Linked DNA regions of Homo sapiens. The protein of the gene in region 2 interacts with the protein of the main gene of each other region in a pairwise test. Each region holds a gene or a part of one and is shown on either strand. Other genes may lie near its edges.

The links.
Region 1: the proteins of CLU (region 2) and PPARG interact in binary tests that used the Homo sapiens proteins (3 or more experiments, as listed by UniProt).
Region 3: the proteins of CLU (region 2) and DISC1 interact in binary tests that used the Homo sapiens proteins (3 or more experiments, as listed by UniProt).
Region 4: the proteins of CLU (region 2) and ADCYAP1 interact in binary tests that used the Homo sapiens proteins (3 or more experiments, as listed by UniProt).

Annotation. Positions count from the first base shown.
Region 1 is NC_000003.12:12,431,994-12,435,040, reverse strand, and holds the end of PPARG (peroxisome proliferator-activated receptor gamma), read right to left. Parts: intron 1,144-3,047; coding exon 896-1,143; 3' UTR 697-895; downstream 1-696. UniProt on the Homo sapiens protein: Nuclear receptor that binds peroxisome proliferators such as hypolipidemic drugs and fatty acids.
Region 2 is NC_000008.11:27,604,659-27,611,930, forward strand, and holds part of CLU (clusterin isoform 1 preproprotein), read right to left. Parts: intron 7,094-7,272; exon of another isoform or gene 6,943-7,093; intron 6,714-6,942; exon of another isoform or gene 6,488-6,713; intron 6,094-6,487; exon of another isoform or gene 5,943-6,093; 5' UTR 5,914-5,942; coding exon 5,817-5,913; intron 4,429-5,816; coding exon 4,280-4,428; intron 1,867-4,279; coding exon 1,696-1,866; intron 678-1,695; coding exon 266-677; intron 1-265.
Region 3 is NC_000001.11:231,692,553-231,699,824, reverse strand, and holds part of DISC1 (disrupted in schizophrenia 1 protein), read right to left. Parts: intron 6,000-7,272; coding exon 5,020-5,999; intron 1-5,019. UniProt on the Homo sapiens protein: Involved in the regulation of multiple aspects of embryonic and adult neurogenesis. Required for neural progenitor proliferation in the ventrical/subventrical zone during embryonic brain development and in the adult dentate gyrus of the hippocampus.
Region 4 is NC_000018.10:907,722-912,795, reverse strand, and holds the end of ADCYAP1 (pituitary adenylate cyclase-activating polypeptide preproprotein), read right to left. Parts: coding exon 5,006-5,074; intron 4,532-5,005; coding exon 4,433-4,531; intron 4,252-4,432; coding exon of another isoform or gene 4,206-4,251; exon of another isoform or gene 3,364-4,205; intron 3,351-3,363; coding exon 3,161-3,350; 3' UTR 624-3,160; downstream 1-623. UniProt on the Homo sapiens protein: PACAP is a neuropeptide involved in diverse array of physiological processes through activating the PACAP subfamily of class B1 G protein-coupled receptors: VIP receptor 1 (VIPR1), VIP receptor 2 (VIPR2), and PACAP type I receptor (ADCYAP1R1).

The DNA.
Region 1 (3,047 bases), on a different chromosome or scaffold from region 2:
TAGCTGGGACTACAGGTGTGTGCCACCACACATGGCTAATATTTAAAACTGTTGTGGAGACAGGGTCTCGAACAAGAGACCAGCTCAATCGATCCATCCACCTTGGCCTCCTAACGTGCGTGGATTAAAGGCTTGAGACACCATGCCTGGCGCAGATACCAAATCTTAAAAAAGTTCTGTGTTCCCCAGAGTTTCTAGCAGTGCTCAGTTGCTGGCCACTGGCTCTGTGGGTGCGCAGTGGCATTGATTAGTAGGTAGTATACGAGTAGGCTGCTGGTGGTGCGTGAAAATCTCGGTTAGGATTGTGGAAGAAGACTGAATTCTGGGTAATCCCAGGGATATGCTGCATATCAGCACATCCAGGCTACAAAACACATGCTCTGAGCAGTTTCTGATTCTGAAGTTCCCCTTCCCTTCTTAGTTCTGATTGTTAAAGCAGATGCAGAGTTCCGAAAAGTTGTAAATTGAGTAAAAAATTAATTTACTGAGAATGAAAGTGTATCAGCAGTTCCACTCACATATTTTAAAATGTCTAAGAAAGAAAAGAAAAATAAAGGAAGAAGGAAAGGAGGGAAGGGAGGGAGGAAGAGTGAGAGGGATGGAGGGAGGGAGGGGAGAAGGAAAAGGGGTAAAAAAGAAAGCCTGGGGGCTAGGGTGGGAAACACACAAGACTCAGTCTTCAAATACTATCAGCAATTTCATAATATGGTAATTTTTAATATTAAAAGTAAATTGTAAATGTGTCTTTATAAACAATATGCATAAAATAGATCATATTCTAAAACCTTTTCTTTTTAAAATGCTTTTTCACAGTAAATTTCTTAGGTGTCAGATTTTCCCTCAGAATAGTGCAACTGGAAGAAGGGAAATGTTGGCAGTGGCTCAGGACTCTCTGCTAGTACAAGTCCTTGTAGATCTCCTGCAGGAGCGGGTGAAGACTCATGTCTGTCTCCGTCTTCTTGATCACCTGCAGTAGCTGCACGTGTTCCGTGACAATCTGTCTGAGGTCTGTCATTTTCTGGAGCAGCTTGGCAAACAGCTGTGAGGACTCAGGGTGGTTCAGCTTCAGCTGGAGCTCCAGGGCTTGTAGCAGGTTGTCTTGAATGTCTTCAATGGGCTTCACATTCAGCAAACCTGGGCGGTCTGGGGAAGCACATATGGAAAACACAACAGGGGGTTCAGTCAAAAAATCCTCTGGGCCCCGCCTTGGAGGCCTAGGCAGCTCTACCAAGCAACTCATCTGTATTTTTGGTTTGTTTTGCTTTGTATCTTAAATAGGTGGGGAGGAAGGGTAAGCAGATAATGGGTAAGAACTAAGGATGGAATCAGAACCAAAATGATCAGAGCTCTTTGCAGGGCCTTTTTCTGGCCAGGATGTAATCTGTGTGGTCAGCTGAGGGAGCATGGCATCAAAACAATCCTGTTCCCCAAATGAAGTTTCCTCTGCTAACGTGTTTCTACTCAGAAATCTCCTTTTCTTTTCTTTTCTTTTTTTTTTTTTTTGAGATGGAGTCTTGCTCTGTCATCCAGGCTGGAGTGCAGTGGCATGACGTCGGCTCACTACAACCTATGCCTCCCGGGATCAAGCTATTCTCCTGCCTCAGCCTCCTGAGTAGCTGGGATGATAGGTGCTCACCACCACGCCTTTCTAATTTTTGTATTTTTAGTAGAGATAGGGTTTCACCATGTTGGCCAGGCTTGTCTCAAACTCCTGACCTCAAGTGATCCACCCGCCTTGGCCTCCCAAAGTGCTGGGATTACAGGCATGAGCCACTGTGCCCAGCCAGAAATCTCCTTTTCAACTTCTGCTCCTTCCTGATGAATCTACGTTTTATAGCTTCTACTCAGTTTCTTATCATAGCTTCAAATATGCTTTTTTCACAAATATGCTTTTAAAAAAAGGTTTGTCTTTTTGCTTAATTTGCTTATGCTATGTTTGCTTAATATGGCATATTTCCAAAGGACAAAACACAGTTTTAAAATACTGATACATTTTAACAGAGGTTTCTTTTCAGTGGTAAGATTGCAAGCAATTTTCACTAGTTCTTCTTTAGATTTTTCTTTAGTTCAATTTGCAAATGGTGAACTTAAATTACTTTTAAGCAGTTTACTTTTTTCTTTATGTAGATCTTGTTAGATTTATTCTCAAATACTTTATAGCTTCTATTGTGAATGGACCCTTCATTTTCATTACATCTAATATATCCCCACTGATGTGCAGAAAACTAATTGATTTTAGTATATTGAAACAATTCCAATTTTCTGAACTTTTATCAGTTCAAATAGCTTTTAATCATGGATTTCTACTTTTTTTGGATAGATAATTATATCAGCAATGGTAGCTTTATTTATTTCTTCTTTTGCAGCATTAACCTTTCTCATTTCCTCTTCTTGCCATAGTGTGTTGGCTAAAACCTCCAATATGGGATTAAATAATAGTAGCAATAGTAGCAATTCTTGTTTTATTCCTAACTTTGAAGGAAATGCTTCTAATGGTTTATCAGCAACTATGATGTTTGCTATAGATTATGGAGAACATGTTTTACTCCTGGCTTTCCAGGGGTTTTACAATTTTAATTTGTTTTAGTCAGGAATGTTGTTGAATTTTTATCAAATACTTTTACATTTTTCTATCTAAAGAGCTATGATATCTGAAGAGTTATGGTTTTATCTTAACCTAGCACAGTGAATTACATTAATAGAGTTCCTTATACTCTTGTACTCACTTGCTAATATTTTATATAGAGTTTTTGTATTTGTAGGTGATACTGGTTTAGAGTTATTTTGGGGGCCATTCTTTGCCTGTTTTAGTAACAATGTTAACTAGCCTTATACACCAAGTTGAGAGGTTTGCCTTCTGTGTCAACGCAGTAATGATCTGTTCCCTGACGGTTTCTTAGAATTTGTTTGCAGAACCATCTGAGCTTGGTGATAAATCTATCACTATCTTTAATTTTTCTTCCATAGCTTTTATCTATTCAGGCTTTCTACTACTTATATGGTAAAGTTTTAGTAATTTATATTGGAATAAAGTTGTAGATGATATT
Region 2 (7,272 bases):
TGTAGAGACAGGGTCTCACTATCTTGGCCAGGCTGGTCTCAAACTCCTGGCCTCAAATGATCCTCCCGCCTTGGCCTCTCAAAGTGCTGGCATCACAGGCATGAGCCACCATGCCCAGCTCAGTTTTTTTCCTCTTTAAATAAGGATAATATCACCCTTGTGATATTGCTGGAGAAAAATCGAGATGACACCCGCTGAGCCCTCGGCATGGTTCTCAGCATCTAACGAGTTGCTCAAAAGGCCATGAGCTTCCACCCCTTCTCACCTCGTATGAATTCTGTTGGCGGGTGCTGGAAGGCCGGGCTATGGAAGTGGATGTCCATGGCCTGCTGAGCCTCGTGTATCATCTCAAGGAAGGGCTGGAACATGGCGTGGAAGTTCAGGGGCTCGTACGGAGAGAAGGGCATCAAGCTGCGGACGATGCGGGACTTGGGAAAGAAGAAGTGAGGCCTCCGGTGGGGCAGGCTGAAGGGCAGGTAGTGGTAGGTATCCTGGGGCTCCCGGGTGAAGAACCTGTCCTGGAAGAGCTCGTCTATGATGCTGGACGCGCGGCTGAAGTGGTCCTGCATGACATCCAGCATGTGCGTCTGCTGCCGGTCGTTCTCCAGCAGGGAGTCGATGCGGTCACCATTCATCCAGAAGTAGAAGGGCGAGCTCTGGTTCAGGAACTCCTCAAGCTGGGACAGCCAGCATGGGCACAGTTAGGAGAAGCTCACCAAGGCCACGGCCTCCTGGCCTCCCACCCCCTGGTGAGCCAGGCCAGGCCCTGCCCATGGCTGTAACAGTCACACAGCAAGTGACCAACAGCCCAGCTGGGACCAGCCCCCAGCACCCCATCTGTCAGGTCCATGCTCTTTCCTTTTATCTCCCTCCATGGGGGACAGTTTTGAGACACCTGGGAGGCCCCAAAAGTCACAAGGCCCAACATTTCAGGTTCATTCACTGTCATCTTTGGCCACCAATGATATCCACCCCCGCTCGGCTAAGGGCCAACTGATGTGACTTCAGGGATTGGAGCAATTCACTGAGTCCCAATCAAAAAAGCCCTGCAGCAGAGGACAGGAGCAACACTAATATACTACAAAATCTTACATTGGCTGGGCATAGTGGCACACATCTATAATCCCAACAATTTGGGAGGCCAAGGTAGGAGGATTACTTGAGCTTAGGAGTTTGAGACCAGCCTGGGCAACATGGCCAAACCCCATGTTTACAAAAAAAAAATACAAAAATTAGCTGGGTGTGGTGGTACGTGCCTGTAGTCCCAGCTACTTGGGAGGCTGAGGTGGGAGGATCACCTGAACCCAGGAGGTCGAAGCTGCAGTGAAACATGATCACATCACTGTACTCCAGCCTGGGTGACAGAGTGAGACCCTGTCTCAAAAAAAAAAAAAAATTCTTAAATCCTTCCACATAAGTGGACACAGGGCTCTGCCATCCCACGAAGCAGTTTATTATGTCATCCAGCTAAGCACTGCTGCATGAGTTTTCTAAGAGAAGGCAGATACCTGGCCTACATCCTTTTGATGACTCCACTCTCTCTACTCATGCCAGACATTACCAATGGAGCATGGCACTCTGGGCAAGCCAGCCAATGCTAATCAATTGCATCTGGCATGCGGAATGAAGCATATTTCACTAGGCTCCCCTCCTTCCCCACTCAGAGCCTTGGCCACTCATGTGTCCCCTTTTCACCTGGCGGCCAACCAGGCCTGAGCCACTTCTGCAGACGCGTGCGTAGAACTTCATGCAGGTCTGTTTCAGGCAGGGCTTACACTCTTCCCAGAGGGCCATCATGGTCTCATTGCACACTCCTGGGAGCTCCTTCAGCTTTGTCTCTGATTCCCTGGTCTCATTTAGGGCATCCTACAGGAAGACACAAGGCTGGCTGAGCCACACAGAGACCACAGGCTCATGCACTCAAAGAGCTGCTGGGTGCCAGGCCCTCTGCCCCAGGGCAGGCCTTCCCATAGGCTGGCCACCCAGCATGCAAGTGCCTACCCTTGCTCCAGTTCAAGCTTCCCCTCATTCGCCCACCTGGAATCCCCTTCCCACCTGGCTTAAAGAATCCACTCATCCTTCAAGATCCAACTGTTCCCTAACTCCTAGAAGCTTCCCAACTCCTGGAACCCATGTGGACACCACCTCTCTCTCTGATCACCTACTCAATGACTACCCTCTCACTGAAGCCTCATTTCCTATTCTCTGCTTCTGGTGTTTAAATTTCATCTTCCAAAGCAGGCTGCAGACTCCCTGAATCTTACCTTTCTATTGCAACCATGCCTCCTGGCGTGCAAAGGGAATGGCAGGCATTCAGCACCAAAGCCACACCAGCTATCAAAATTCTCTAACGGGCCCTTGCCACTTGACCCAATAATTCTGTAAGAATCTGTCTCAGGCCAGGTGCGGCAGCTGACACCTGTAATCCCAGCACTTTGGGAGGCCGAGGCAGGCATATTACTTGGGGTCAGGAGTTTGAGACCAGCCTGGCTAACATGGTGAAACTCCATCTCTACTAAAAATACAAAAATTAGCTGGTGTGGTGGTGCACACCTGCACTCCCAGCTACTTGGGATGCTGAGGCAGGAGAATCGCTTGAACCTGGGAGGCGGAGGTTGTAGTGAACCAAGATCAAACCACTGCACTCCAGCCTGGGTGACAGAGCAAGACTCTGTCTCAAAAAAACAAAACAAAACAAAACAAAACAAAACAAAGACTCTATCTCAAAGGAATCCCCTGACAAAGAAAAAGATACTTAAAAATATTTGAAACAGTATTAGCTTATGGCAAAAAAAAAAAAATCAGAACCAACCCAGATGCTTAAAAGAGACAGATTAAACAAACTATGGTTCATATAAAGGGTAGATGGTACATCATTACAAAGGATGTTTATAGTCCATTTTGAATATTATATGTTAAAAATTCATAATTTTAAATATAGCCACTGTCAAAAAAGCATAGAAGAAAATAATAGGAAAAATAGATCAAATGTTAACAGTGACTTGTCCTTGGGCAAAAGGATTATGGAAAAACTTTTCCTTTTCTACTTTTCTATATTAAAGTCTCTATGAATGAGTGTGTTAGTCTTCAAAAAAAAAAAAATAGCCTATCCACACCCCAGAGTTAGGTGAGGTCTTTGTCCTGCTCCATCATCCCCTGTCCCCTGCTGGGCAAGGACAACCCACCTCCCACTGAGCCAAGACACAAGCGCCACCCCTGCTACCTACTTCCTTGCCTTCTGGCTCACCTACTCCTCAACTAAGAAGTAGCAGGCTCTTTTCTCCAAATGTATGTGATGTGCTTTATTATAAAACCAGAATTGTTGAATGTCAAACTCCAGTGATAACCACAAAAATGTGAGAACAAGTCATGCCCCTTCCCCAGGAGCTATTTGAGGATTCTCATAGAATGGTGAGAACTGATACTAAGGCCAAGAAAGGGCATGAAACTTGAAAAAAAGGTAGAGCCACATCCAGGCCAGCAATCCCTGAAGTGGCTCCTATGGAGCTGTGCTCAAAGCGGCCAGGAAAAAAAAACAAAAACAAAAATGAATTCCCTGGTCAGTTTGGAAAACTCTGGGTTTCATGGAGTTACACAGGTTTCTTTACGGCAGAACTTCTCAGAGCCTTTGAAATGCTTTTAACATGCACGATGGATCATGAAGCTTGCAGGTAGCTACATCTTAGCATCTGAAGTAGGGCGACCGTGAGAGGAGGTTTGTAGGATACTCTTAAGGAGACTTGATTTCTTAAATAAGTTGTTCATTGAATTATAGTGTTTTAGTTTTGTTGAATCATTAAGCACAGGCTAGACCTGCTATATCCACTACTGGGCTTAAGATGTTTCTTTATGAAGTAGTCCAGAACTCTAGCAAGACGTGGGGTGCTGTGTGCCTGCCTTAACCCTAACCATATCACCCCTATTAGATAAGCTTCCTGAAGGTTGGACGCCACGCCTGTCTGGGCCCCTGCCGCCACCCCATCCAGAGCCTGCTTGGAACTAGCATGTGATCAGGGCTTAGAAACATCTATTGAAATGAATCTGGGCATTAGGCCCTGGGCCAGGCTCATAACAAAACCAGATCCAAGATCTCACTCCCTGATGCTTTCAGAAGCAAATGAACCTTCCCTGCTTCTTAATTGCAGCCTCAGCATCAGCTGACACAGCCTGGGAGGACTGCGGGTCACCATGGCAACCCAGCAGGGCACCGCGCAGTGACCCCCTCCCTCCCCTCCAGTGGGATGGTCAAGGCAGGGAGGCGGTAGCGGCTCCTCCTGACCTCTTTCTTCTTCTTGGCTTCTTCTAGGTTGCTGAGCAGTGTCTTGCGCTCTTCGTTTGTTTTTTCTATGAGAGTCTTTATCTGTTTCACCCCGTTGACAGCATTTTGAATTTCCTTATTGACGTACTTACTTCCCTGATTGGACATTTCTGCAAGAGAAGTGCAAGAGGCAGAATGAGGCGAGAGGAAGAGGTGGCCTCAGGACCCTGGAATGAGCTGGATGGCCAGAAAGGCCCGTTCAGTTCAGGGGCTGTCAAGGCTGGGACCCCCACTCCTGCCAGCAGGCAGCAGCATGGCCCCAGCCTTGCCCTGGCACAGGCTCCCATCACAGGCTCCTTGCTGACTGCACCCTACTGCTTAGAAATGCAGACCATGGGAGCCGGCACACCCAGAGTTATGCCCAGCCACTGCCATGTGCCCCTGGAGAATGAGCTGGGTGCAGAAGAAACTTGGCAAGGAAAAAAAAAAACCCAGAAGTGTCAGCTTTGCAGCATCAAAATATAAAATATTGTTATTTTGGACACAAATCTTTCTAGAGTTCAGTTTAAACAGATATGTGTATTTCTTTGTTCCAATGCAGTGCCAGGCGACAGGAATAAGAAGATGAGTAAATGAGTAAGGTATAGCACTGGTGACAAATGCAGCGAAACACTGTGTCACCTAAGTGCTACTTCACTGGTGTTTATCCCATGCCAAGCACTGCGCCAAACACTTCATGTGCAGTTTACATAATGCTCCAGCCCCCCGCCGTGCCCACTTCGCAGAGGGAGACATGGGAAGTGTGATATGATAAAGGGTCAAAGTGTTCATCAGGTAGGAGGAGTATGTTCTGGAGGTCTAACATACAGGTGGTGCTTATAGTTAATAACACCATATCATAACTGGAAATTTGCTAAGAAAGTAGATTTTAAGTCTTCCCACCGTCCCACCATAAAAAGTGGTCATCATTTCAATGTATGTGCATTTCAAAACATCACGTCATATACCTTAAATATACACAATTTTTATTTGTTAATTATATCTCAATAAAATGGGGGGTGGGGGGAGTGTCATGAGATCAAGATAGTGGCCCAAAGTCACCCAGCTGAGAAGAGGTGAAACAGACTCACACCCATGTCTGATCTGGGTTTTTAACAATGATCCTGCAGAAACCGTCAGCTCACAGGAGGGATAAGCTCTGGGCACTCCAAAGGGGAGAGGGATAAGAGCTCCGGTGGTCCAGACACAGCTTCGTGGAGGAGGCCTGGGAGCTGGGCTAAGGGGCCTGGGAGGGGAAGAGCTGAATGAAATGCAACAGCCGAAAGTGCTTGGGAAATGCCTGCAAATGCCGGCAGTCTGATGCACGCAGAGCCTGAACCAGGGGCCTCGGAGCTGAGGCTCAGAGTGGGCCCAGACACAGGCACCCAGACCCAGTGCACAAGATAAAAACGGTCTGTAACACTGGGGCCTGATAGAGAGGCACTGAGCAGAATTAGCTACCCTGCCCTCTGACCTCATCACCCTGTGGCCAGAGGAACATCATGCTTGGTCTACTCACCCTGGAGCTCATTGTCTGAGACCGTCTGGTCCCCCAGGACCTGCCCACTCTCCCAGGTCAGCAGCAGCCCCACAAACAGCAGCAGAGTCTTCATCATGCCTCCAATTCTGGAGTCTTTGCACGCCTCTGCAGAGAACAGGAGACCATCATGGGAACAGCTAGACAGCCTGCTGGCGTCCCGCCCACCTGCTGCCTGCAGCAGCTCCCCAGGGCCTCACTGCCCTCAGCTGTCCCCACAGCAGGCACTGCTGCACTTTTATTCCTGAGGAAATGGGGGGAAATGACCAGACTTGCCATGGACACCTCGAATGAAAGCGAAGGCAGGAGGTGCAGGGAGGGAGGGACTGCAGGACAGCAATGTTGAGTGGAAGAAACAAGAACCCTGGCATCGGAGGAACCAGGCTCTTGTCCAAGCCACATCCTCCCCGACAATCAGCGAGGCACACAGGCTTTCTGCATCCTGGCCTCCTTGTCCAGAGTGGTATCGATCATGTCAGACACTGAAAATACCCCCCTTAGGTCATGCATCCGTCCCTCCCCATGCCACCTCCACAGAGGGACTGCATCCCAGAGACCAGCCACGTCCTCTGCAATGTGCACCTAAACCTTCACCCCAGCAGACGCTCCCCATTCACCACAGCGCTGCAGCCCCCAGGGAGTCTCAGCACCACCTGAACTTGACTTTCAAGAGCCGGAGGCAACAGCAGCCAGCCCTTCACACCGAATCCATCTGCATCCCTAGTGGGAGACTTGGGCCGGGCTGCCTGTGCATTCAGGGGTGGAAGTAGTGGAAGCCAGGAAGGACAATTCCCTTCGGAGAGTAGAGAGGGTTCGCAGTGGCCCGAGGAGCAGGCTTCCCAGAGAAAGTCCCTTTGGAAGGATGAGTCCTCTTGCTCTGCCAGGCCCTCCACACTGCCCATCCCCTCTAAGCCGACAGCAGGCTGCCCTGCCAGTGTTCCTGCCACCACTGGGCTGGCTGCCCTGAGCCACGGGGCACAGGCCATAGCCCCGGTCTTACACAATGGACCCTTTCCCAGAAGCTGAGGCTGTTGCATAAAACAGAAACCCCTCCCCCTGCACTCCACCCCCACCATGCCCCTCCCAAGAACTGCTTATCTGAGCTCACCCATTTGCCATCACAGAACCAACAGGACGATGGGGTTCCCCTTCCTGAAATGGTTCACATCCAAAGCCCGCTCAGCCCAGCAGGCCCATCTGGACACTCAGTAGCACATTAACAAGGAGTGCCTCTCATGAGAAGTAATCAGGCGCAAAGAGCCAGGGAGCAGCGTGGGAGAAGAGATGGGGTCAGCGCCTTCCCCAGAGATGGGGTAGGGGGCGGAGACCGGGCTCACCAGGAAGGCTGTGGTCTCACGGGCTCTGCCCCAGCTGCCCACTGAGCCCTGAAATGCCTCCAGCAGGAACAGAGCCTTTGTCATGCCAGAGAGACAAAGCC
Region 3 (7,272 bases), on a different chromosome or scaffold from region 2:
GGACTGTGTCAAGAAGAGACATGAAGACCATTTAAAAGTTCTGATTTTACTCTGAAGTTCATGGGGCGCCACTGGAGAGTTTGGGGCAGAGGAGCACATGATCTGACTTATGTTTTAAACAGTTTCACTCTGGCTGCTGTTAGTAAGAGCAGAAGAAGGGAGGCCAGGTAAGAGGCTATGGGAACATTCAGGAAGGAGATGACAGGAGCTTGGATGATAGTGAGGATGGTGGCAATGGTGAAGATGGTGAGATGTGATCTGATTCCGGTTATATTCAGAAGACCGCTGGTTAAATATAGAGCCAACAGGATTTGCTAATACATCACAGGTGGGGTCTGAGGAAAATGCACCAGGATGATGCCAAGGTTTGTTTTGTTTTTTGTTTTTTGGGTTTTTTTTTCTGACCCACTGGAAGAATGGAGTACTTATTGCACCAGGTTATAGCCATCATTTTCCTTTGTTTGGTTTTATCTGTGCACATCATTCAACCTTGAGCATCTGGGGGGCAAGAACTATTTTGCATCCATGTATAGGATGCTAGTACTTACACTGACTTGATTTTCCACTGCTTTGGGCACATGGAAAGAGTACAAGTGCCTCTCTCCTTGTTCTGCTGAACAGGGTATGAGTGGCAGTGATGGGGTTACCTCTACGCTGAAGCATTTGATCGCTCTTGTAGGACTCCCTAACATTCTCTTCCTCAAGTCTGTGACTAAGGGGATCATATGTTCAGATGGTGCAGGCTGGGTTCTTGCCCCCCAAAAATCTCTGTGGAACATGAAGCATACGCAAAAAACACAATTTTGTTGTGTTGAGCCTCTAACGTAGTGCCTGTTACTAGCCTGTCCTAATACAATCTCCAAAGCCTAGGATAAGGCATTGTACTCGTTGTCATTGATAAATGCTTTCTGAATGAATGAAAGAATGAATGAATAATCATATTAACCCCTTTGTCTTTGAATTGTTCTATATTACAACTGCAAAGTTTACCAGTAACTTAGTCCTATATATTAGGGACAGAAGAAAGGCTGTGTGAATGGTTTGAGGGCCACATAAAGCTATAGCATTACCATCGCCACACCCAAATGATGGTATCATTAAACATTTATTAGAACAGAAGCTGAAGAAATGCAGGAAACAAGGTCAGGAAAAAAATTCATTTACAGCCAAAGCCCACCCCACGATGCCCACCTCGTCCAGTGATCTCTATAAGGCCCTGAATGGACTGCCCTGAGATATGTCTGAATACCCGTCTTTGCTGGAGGCACAGCCCCAGTGGCCATGTCTTGCACTGTGCCACAACCCTGCCTGTGGAACGTCCTATAATACTCTACAGGCAGAGTCCTTCATTTTTCACCAGTTTCCATGGCCTTAGGTGGAGCCTACCTTGCAGGGCCCACTCCACTTCCCCTCCTCTGCATGCCTGGTCACCAACTACCTTTATTACCATCTTCTCAGTCCCATGCAACCCCTGGAAATCTCGCTAAGCAGCGATTTCTAAACAGCATAAAATATTCACAGTCGATTCTCCTTATTCACAGTACTGTAGTTATGTTCTATAAAGTTTCTGTGAATACTGAATTAGGGAATAATGAAGCATTGCTCCTAAGAGAAATACAGGGTAGGTTCCTGTGAACCCCTGGTCACAACACCTTCCTCCATCGGTCAACACATGACCTTGTTCTATGTGTGTTTCTGTTTAAAAACATCTTATTTAATATGTATTATTGATCCATAAGCATTGTACTCTGGCCAACAGCACTCTAACTCATGCCTGAATAAAGTTTCTGGAGCACCTGTATCTTCTCCATCAGGCCCATCACAGCCTTCTCATGCTTAGGAGCACTAGATGACATTAGCACTATGCTTAGGGAGCTTTTGCAATGGTTAACTCACCAATAAAGAGCACAAAAATGTAAAAAAAGATGGCATTAAATAGACCACAAAAAGGATACTAGTTTGTAGTATGAGAGAGAAGGTAGAATGTCATCTGGTCTGAACTTGTTTGACCTAAGTAGAAAGCGTGTACATCAGGTGACCCAAATATTTTGCCACTCTGTGCAGGTTCAAAATTACCACCAGGCATGGTGGCTCATGCCTGTAATCCCAGTACCTTGGAGGCTGAGGCAGGAGGATCATTTGAGGCCAAGAGTTCAAGACCAGTTTGGGCAACGTGGCAAGACCCTCATCTCTACCCAAAAAAAAAAAAAAAAAAAAATTAGCCAGGCATGGTGGCATGCGCCTGTAGTCCCAGCCACTAGGGAGGCTGAGGCAAGAGAATCGCTTGAGCCCAGGAGTTCAAGGTTGCAGTGAGTTATGATCACACCACTGCACCCCAGCCTGGAAGACAGAGACCCCGTCTCTTAAAAAATAAAATAAAAATGAAAAATGACCATAAAAGTGCTGTGAGTACTGATTTTGGAGTTAACAACAAATTTTAGCAAGTAGACGAATTCACACATATAGAATCCACAAACACTGAGGATCAACCATCTTTTAGAAGAAGCTGAAACTTAAATTCCTGAGATTCTCATTTTTACTTAAGTAGAAGCGAGAGGAGGTTAAGGAATTAAAATATAATATCAATAAGGCCCCCAAACACTAGAAATCCTACTCTTTCAAAGGATCTTTTTGGAGATCCTTCACCGACCTTCTGCCCTGTCCCGAAGGCCTCAGCCGCAACCCCAGTGAGCAGTCTGGGGCCTCTGTGTAAGCACCATGGGAAAACAAGTCCCTGACCAGCCCACCTCATCACAGACAATTCCCACTGTCAAGAGGTTCTTCCTCCTATTGAGGCAAACTCTGCCTTCCTGTAAGTCCTATGCCCTGGACTGTGTTATTTCTGTCATTCCCACTACTCTGTTAATTCCGCTGTCACACAACAGATACTCAAGTACAGCCTAGCGTTACTTAATGACAGGGATGCATTCTGAGAAATGCATTATTAGGTGACTTCATCATTGTGTGAACATCGTAGAGTGTGCTTACACAAATCTGGATGGTGTAGCCCATTACACACCTAGGCTAGATGGAATAGTCTATTGCTCCTTGGCTACAAACCTGTGCAGCATGTGACTGTACTGAATACTGCAGACAAGTGTCACACAATGGTAAGGTATTGTTGTATCTAAACATATCTGAACATAGAAAGGGTACAACAAAAACACAGTACGATAATCTCACAGGACCACTGTCACATCATATATGTGATCCGTCATTGGCCAAAATGTCATTATGCAGTACATGAGTGTAATTGAAGAGAGTGTCATGTTTTTCCCTGCCCAGCTGTGGGACTGCCATAGACAACAATACTTACACTAAAGAAAAAGTGTGTCCAGATTCTACCATTTGAGATAAGATAGGAATTTAATTTGAGCTATGGACAGAAGGGAGAGCTTCATTTGCTTTTGACTCAAACTCTCTAAATTGGAGCTATTTCTCTAATGATGACAATGGTTAATTTCTGGGTACTTGCTAGATGCCAGGCCCTGTCTGAAGCACTTTGCACATATGATCACATTTAGTTTAATTAACTGGAGAAGAGAAACACCGCAGGAAGGTAGACCCTCTTGCAAAACCCAGGTGAAAGATAACAAGGATCTGAGCCAGGGCAGCGGCCATGGTGATGAGAGACAGATTAGCAGTAGGACTGAGAGGGCTTGGAGGCCAGCCAGATGTGGAACAAGGGAGAGGGAGGTGTGGAAGATGGTTGTGGTTTCTGGCCTAAGAAACTGGATAGATTCTATGCATTCAAATCAACCAATATTGGAGGCCCTTCAGAACGGGTTTCGGGGAAAGACAAGGGGCACTGGTTTAGGCAATGACTAACTGGAAGACTCCACACATCACCCAGAATACAAGCCTGCATCTGTGCTCTGACCTCACTCCCTCTCTGCATAATAAATCAGAGGGCTGGGCTGAGGTCCCTGAGGGCTGAAACAGGGCAAACAGGGACAGGGCTAGAAACATCAGACTATAGATAAAGAACAGATGGGAGATGCTCTTTCGGGGAATGAGCATGAACTTCTGCAGATTACTCCTCCCAAATGCCTGATGAGTGGGTGCTCCACTTCCCTACCCACATGAACATATCCACACACCACACGCAGAAACACATGAGTGCACACACACAAATACACTCGCACATGCATGCACACACACACATGAACACACAGCACAAACATGCACACACACACACGCACACACAGGCACACCTACATGCACACACATACACACACAAACACATATGCACACACACACCAGGATTAAAATACAGTCTGGCAACAGATGAGCCACAGAGCATCTCTACCTGGGCTTCTCTGGGAACTTTTGTGGGTAGAGGAACCCTACCTACTTCCGGCTATACCCACCTCTCAGATAACTGGATGGACAGCATCATCATAAGGCTGGGCCTTAGATGTCTCCAGTTTGTACTTATTTCCAAAGCAGCTACATTCTCATTTGAGCCTTAGAACAATCCTATGAGTTGGTGTTATCTCTAAATACGGAAACTGAGAGCCAAAGAGGTTCAATGACCAGAAGCGAAGTCTCCCGACCCTGTGGAAGGCAGCAGCCACTGCAGCAGGATGGAAGGGAATGAGTGAAGCGGATGAAGAGCAGGATCGCCCTGATAGAGGGCATCCCCATTTTTGTATCTCTCAAGTCCTTCCAAACATCACCCAGCTCAATCTCCCCTGCCCCCAGTTTCCTGTCTCAAAGCAGAGCTGGGCTGCATGAACCACGTCTCACCTAAGCCGGGGCCTGCAGAGGAGCCTGCGGCCCAATGGAGAGCAAATCTGAGCACCTAAGTGACAGAGAAGACAAAAAGGAGAGTAGATCTGTGTCCAATTCAAAGAGACAGAAGTGCAGCAACATCCTGTGCAGCCGGCTCCAAAAGGAGCTGCTGCAGCTTCCAGGAGGAAGTCAGTTGAGCCCAGAACCCCTCGTTTCCTGCCGTCTGCCCAGTGCTAATCTGAGCTCACGACAATCTCGGGCCACAGAGGTGGAAGAGACACTGACCTCCATCTGCCTCCGGTTTCTCAGCAGGCAGTCCCGCAGCACTGGCTCCCATTTCCTGAGCAGGGTGTCCCAAGAGTGGGCATCCCCTGAGCCGCTGCTCCCATCACCACCACAGCCAGCCAGTGAGGGATCCAGAGAACTGGAGGAGCCAGGGTCCATGTCTGGTAAAGAATGCATGTCACGCTCTGGCCTGGAGCTGTTCCTTGCGGCCTGGGCCAAGTCTGCAGAGACCCGTGTAGCCAAGAGACTGAAGGGCCGAGAGAGACATCGCGGGTCCTCGTGAGGCCCGTCCAAGCTGGCAGCTTTGGCTCCCATCTCCTGGGGGCTCTGGCAATGGGACTCAGCCTCTCTGGATGGTGGGCAGCCTTCTGCTTCTCCACGTTCCCCGGCAGAGCCAAGCGAGAGCCGAATAAAGCTAAAGCTTGAGGTAAAGGCACTGTGAGAGCCAGGAGGGGTTGGGGGGACCTCAGGGCCACAGCCAGGGCTGCAGCTGTTGCTACTCAACTCTGCTGATGGCAGAGAGCCTGCTGCCCGGACACGCCTTGCTCCATCGCTGCAGGCTGCCTCCCAGCTGGCGTCCAGGGTCTCAGAACTATCCATGGCTGCAAACTCTTGCTGCCACCCAGCACTCCCAGGGCCACACGGCCAGCTAAGCCTGTCAGGCAATCTGGTGCCACCTCTGAGCTGAATCCCAAAGTGCGCCGAGGTTCCTCTCACAGAGGTCACAGTAGGGGCTGCTGCACTCTTGGAAACAGGGCTCCGGACCAAGAGGCCTCTCGAGTCAAGGCCACACTGTCTGGCCCTGGACTCCGAGTGGTGGGACTCCTCGCCAGACACCCCTCCTGGGAACCGGAACAGTGTGCCCACTGCTGGGGAAAGGAACCCGATCCCAGGCCCTGTCGAGCTTCTCATGTAGCCCGGCCTCCGTGCCAGCCGCCGCCTCCGAAAGCACGCTGCAGGTGGTAAGCAATCCCGGCTGCCTGGGAAGAAAAGAAAAAACAGCACCATAAACATGCAGATCTTACTGGCCCAGCTGGAACTGCATCTGGAGAACATCCCTAGGTTTAAAGGTCATCTCTCAGTACACCTGTCAAAGATAGATGCTGGCTCAGTGGTCCCAGGGCCAATCCATTATGTAAATCCTGACAATCCTCAGGAAGTATTTGCCTGGAACATGTAGAAATCAACACAGCATCTCAGCTCCTCGGTTTAGCAGAGCAGCTGGCACTGCTGTACGCTATGCCAACAGGTCAGCATGAACACAACCTTGGCAGCTCCTGAACCCTCCAACATCTTGCCTGTTGGTCTTTTATGGCACCTCAGTACTCTCATCCTGGAGTGGGCCTGGAAAGCAAATGACGTGAAAGAGGAATGCCAGAGCATGCCTCTAAATGAGATCCAACTATTTACTCTAGCTATTCGTTGAACATGTGAATGTTCACTAGCGGAGCTATCCATGTCCCTGCAAGACTGATCTGTTGCTGCAGACCATGGATAGCTGGCTGTGCCGCAATGTATGGCCATCATCTCATCTCACTCAGTGGATGACAGGAGGCCTGCTTGATGTGTTCTCCAAACCAGCATTGCATTCCCTTCCCAGCTATGCTATAGGAATAGGAACAATAACAAATGCTGACTCCTCATTGACTGGTTCAAACCCTGATTGTACCACTTGCTGGTTGTGTGACCTTCCACAAGTTACTTAACCTCTCTGTGCCTCAGTTTCCCCATCAGTAAAGTGGTGATATTAACAGTAGCTCTCTCATAAGGTGGTTGTGAGCATTCAACTAAATGAGTTACTATTTGTAGACAGCTTAGAACAGTGCCTGGCACATATGATGATAAGAGTGATTAAAATGTTATTATTTTTAGATTGCATAGCACTTTGCTACTCATAATGTGTTTTAATTTACATTAATTTCATTCACTCCCGACCAAAACCATGTGAATCAATCCGACCCGAAACTATAGCTTTCCTTTTATATTAAAGGCAACTGAGATTCAGAGAACTTGACTTTCCAGAACCCCCTGCAAGTAGCCAAGTGACCAGGACAAAGTCTCTTGACTCTACTGGCCCACACAGAGCTCTCATCTCAGGACCCTGCCACATTGCAAATCAGGCATGAAAGTAAAACTAGGCAGCACTAGGCACAGCTGTAATCATACCATGGCCTATGGCGAGAAATGGAACAAACTTCACTCCAGGCCCACACATCCTGCTTTGCTTCCCAGAACAGACATGGGCTTGGAATC
Region 4 (5,074 bases), on a different chromosome or scaffold from region 2:
AACCTCCAAAAACTGATTATTTAGATCATTTTATACAAAATTTTATCAAGACAAGTTTAGTCTGCAGAGTTACTTGTATAAGAACAATGTTAGATCCCTATTTTAGGCTGGGTGTGGTGGCTCACGCCTGTAATCCCAGCACTTTGGGAGGCTGAGGTGGGAGGATCGCTTGAGCAAGACCAGCCTGGGCAACATAGTGAGACCTGGCCACTAAAATAAAAAATAAAAGAACAATGTTAGATTGCTATTTTAGATGTGTAACTAATGCTCCAGCATTGTCTCCCACTACTACCTAGTAACTTTCTGAATATTGAGCAAAGTATATACACACTAGGGGATGGAAATTAATCTAAATTGTGTGTCTTATAATGTTGCAACATCATGCCTGTTTATGAGCTTAAAACCTTCTTAGGCATCTCCATCTGAGTAGCTACTTTAAATTTTTAGCAGAATCCAGTTGCCCATCAATTATTAAAGTGCAGTTCATGAAAATACAAGGGTGCTTAGATAGATATATATTCCAGACGTAAAAAAATCTTATGGTTGCTAAAGAAATATAATACTTTAAGAGATTTTAAAGTAATTATTTCCTGAATGTCTTTTTTCCCAAACATTAGACCAAGTTGCATTGTTTACAAAAATTTATTCATACAAATTTTACACACTTTATATAACAGTTATCAAAGTCCTAGTTATAGATATCATGTGTGTAATAATACTTGGTTAAGGTGTTTTTATAATCAGTTGCACACAAAATAAGAGCTTCAAGACTAACATCTACCTAAATTATCACTATATCATAAATCTGCTTCAGTTTAGTAAGGCTCTTGGCATTTCTAAAAAGTATACAAAAGATTAAACTGGGTGATCACTGTAAAATGCTTGCAACTAGCCACGGGAACACTAAATTAGACTTCATAAATAAAAGGTTAACTAGAGCCCTATTTCACCACTAACAGCTGATACAAATACAGAAAACTCTGCCCATTATCCAAGAAACAAATAATTAAGACTAAAATGCAAGCTGATGTGTTGCAGCATTGTAGGGCCACTAAATAGCCATCTGTGATTCGTGGCAATTTAAAAGGCGAAGAAAGGCACTAAAGCTGCAAACTGCATCCCGTGTCACATTGCCTGAGGAGACTGCGGAATTAAAGGAAGATTGATCCTATACACAGGACTCAGGCATAGACCGAATGCCTCTGTTTTCACTATTTGCAATGTGATCTCCTGGCAGCATCCATCCCGCCTGGGAATGCAAATCCAATTCTGTTTTCTTTGATTTATGACTTCATACTGATCAAATCCGTAAAGGAAAAGGAAAGGTCCTTTAAACTTTACAAGCTAACGTTTAATCTTTCCTTGTTCTTTTTTTTTTCTTCTTCTTCATCTTCTTTTTTCAAAACATAAAAAAATAAATAAATAAACTTGTGCCTGAAATTTGGGAGATTGGCTGGCTGGTTTGTCTGTTGCTGCTCGATCTGATTGCTGGGTGAAGGTTCTTTTGTTTATAAAGATTACTCTGTATGTTCAAAGAATTGACAGGAAACAGACATGCTTTCTTTAGCCAAAGAAAGGATACAAGCGTAGGTTCTCAGGGTCTGTTGGAGCTTGCTTACCTCACTCTTGACCACAGATATAAGATAGTACTCATACATATGAAGAAGAGGATTAAATGATTTATCAGTTAGCAAAACTGAGCAACATGTGAACACTACACATTCTAATATGACAAAGGTTGGTTTTATGAAATAAATTTTACTAAGCAATAAGCAATAATGTAGAAAAATACATTTTACCTACAAACTCAATAAACAAGAAACAAAGGGTTCATATTTAGTGCATAATTACTTACTAGTGGCTACAGAGGGGTTTCTAAAATTTACAATAAGTGCCTGCATCAAACAAAAAAAAAAAGTGAGAAGCATTCACAAGTTTAAGAGAAGTGAATGAAAAATGGTAAACAGTACTTAAACAGTGCAGGAGGGTAGGAAGGAGAGGTCTCCATAAAACCACAAAGGAAAAGGGTAGCTCCTACAGAGCAGGTTTCAAAGGAGAGGATCCTGGCCATTTCACAAGATGAGAAGCATGGACAGCACTGGAGAAAAACACATTGTACTTTGCATCCATTTCCAATACCCAGCGCCCAAAGTCAGGACCATTGGGACTGGATTTGCCCTCAGCTTCCCAGACCTGGGGCAATCTCAAACCAGTCCATTTCCAGGGTCCTCCTCCTACCACCTCAGGCTCTGCCTCTTCCAATATACCTCTATGTCCTTCACTTTGTTCCAATTGCCCTAATTTGGGGATATTAGATTCCCTGGCCACTCAGGAAGTACAGAAAAGAGAGCGGTCTAACGAAGCCGCCCTTTTCTGTACAGTTCCTCAACTCTTCTCCTAGGGAGAGGCGTGAATTCTGGGGAGAAGCACAATTTGGATCGAGCTGTTGTTTTATCAGGAGAATTTTCTTCTGGGCTGAGAGTCTGAAGAGAGACAACTACACATAAAAGGAGAATCAAAGAAAGCAGAAATATTGGAATTGCCACCCAACCAGGGGGACAGAGCCCAGTTGAGTTAGGCTGGGATTGAAGCAGCCTGCCCCAGAGACTCACTGGGAAAGAATGCCCTTCAGCAATTCTCCATATCTTTACCTCAAAATCTCCCTGGAGCAGGGCATCATTGTTTATGTACAGTAGCAAATGGTAAGTAGTAATATCTTCAGGCCTGTCATGGATAAAAATACTATCCTTTTAATTCCAGTTTACAAAAATAGGAGTAATATTCAAAACAATGATTGTCTACTTTTCTATTTATTTTTATAAAAACATAAACAGCTCGGGCGAATTTTCAATCCTTGTGCACGCTTTGTATGAACTTCTCTCTATACTTTATATATATATATATATATATATATATATATATTCTTTATATATATTTATAATATATATCAATAATTGGTCCACAAAGTATATCTGTGCATTCTCTAGTGCTTTGTAGAAAGAAAAACAATATTATTATCAAAATATTCATTTAATGGCTTTACTTCATTACATAAATACATGTTTGGATAGAACACACGAGCGATGACTGTTGAGTCAGTTTGGAAAACGACTTTTCATTGCGTCAGGGCTGTATACACAGGGTAGCTGGTAACCCATCGCTACAAATAAGCTATTCGGCGTCCTTTGTTTTTAACCCTTTGTTTATACCTCTTCCCTAGGACGGCCGCCAAGTATTTCTTGACAGCCATTTGTTTCCGGTAGCGGCTGTAGCTGTCCGTGAAGATCCCGTCCGAGTGGCGCTTGGAGAGCGGCTCCGCGTCGTCCCCCGCGCCGCCGCCGAGGCTCCCACTGCAAGCAAAGGGGTCGGGAAGAGGGTGGCGGGGCGGGAGACACAGGTTCAATCGCCGCGGGGAGCAGGCGGGCCCCACCCCACGCGGGAGCCTTCGGGGAGGGCCCGGGGCTCGCACTGCCCACCGCGTCGCCCGCCTCTGCCTGGAAGCAGCCGTGGGGAGGGCCGAGACGGCAGCCCCTCGATGCCCCCCTCCCCACGCAGGATCTCCTGGCACCAAACCCTGCGGAGGGGGCCCGGGATAAGATCCGGGCAGGCGACGCGCGCTTCAAGCCTAACCTTTCTCCCAGCGCTGCCCCCTTGAGATCCGACCCTTCGTGTGTTTGCGCTAAATTGTCCTCGCTGTTCCTCTCACCCGCGACATACAGAGAAAGTAACCGGAGAGCCCTACATATGCCAGTCTGGCTGCTGCCCTGGAGTTTGCATCGATCCTGCAATTCCTAGTCAAATATGAACACTCCTCTCCCTCCTCACGCCGAGTTGAAAAACGTGATAATAATATAAGTCGACAGGCTGTAGGCAATATTTTTCACTGCATGACTTATTCATGGCGAAAATGTAATCTGTTTTCCCACGGGCTTTATTAGAATGTTGCCTTCTGCCGAGATAGGCTTCACACAAGCCCTGTGCTCTCAGTTTCTCTGGCGTGAGCAAAACTGTTTGGGTCCATAAGTGTCCACATTTGGCCATTTATTATTTCGATTTGAATTTTCAGTAAATACAACCACCCCTTTCCCCTCCCCCAGAAACAGTCATGCTTAGAGAAAATTATAGCAAAACCTCCCTGGAAGCCTGAAGGTTTTGGATGACTGAGAGGTTTGGTTTGGTTTCTCTTTCTTTTCATTCAAAACGGATCAAACTCCCTGGCTCGCGTTCCCTTTTTGCCTCTTCCAGAGCTCTCTGGGCAAATTTAAAGTGCCACTTCAAAATCTCCAACTGCGACCCGTGGCGGATGCCCACCCCAGACCCAGGGGCGCAGACTCACCCTGGCCCCCACGGGCACCCACCGCCGCCCGCCCCGCGCGCCCCGCACAGGCACCCACCCCGGCGCGCGCAGGTTAATCCTTCCACAAACTCTTACCCCACGCCCCGGGCCACGAGCGACTGCAGGTGCTTCCCGGCGGACAGCTGGTCCAGCACTTTGCGGTAGGCCTCGTTAAGGATCCCGTGGGCGACATCTCTAACGGGGAGGCAAAGTGCGCGCCCAGGGTCACTGTTTCTGTCCCCAGGTGGCCGCTAGAGACCCCCTTGTTGGGCGCGCGCCCCCTCGGCGGCCGGGGAGGCTGACAGGGAAACCTCCAGAGGCCCAGAACTCGCCAATAACTCCCGGGATGATCTCGAGAGCAACTGCTAGGATCGGGAGCTAGTCCCGGCTCTAGGAGTGGCAGATGCGGAGTGTGGGTTCCTTGACGCCACTCACTGCCACTCTTTGGGCCACAGCCCCCCTCGGTCCCCACGCGGCCCTCAGGTCCACACAGACCCGCCCGCTGCTGATTTTCTGTCGCTGCAATAGGATCGGGCCAGGGAGAGGACAGGCTTGAGGACTTTCACGGGAAAAAAAAAAAAATCCTGGGTGGGTCACCACACTGCCCCTCCCGTCACCGCAGTCCCGAGCTCCCAGCCGCGGGTGTGCGCGAGGCCGCGCGAATCTCACCTTCTCCCGGCCGGGCGGTACCAGGCGGCGGCGGCGCGCGGCGCGGAGGCGGGGCTCCCTGCGCCCGGC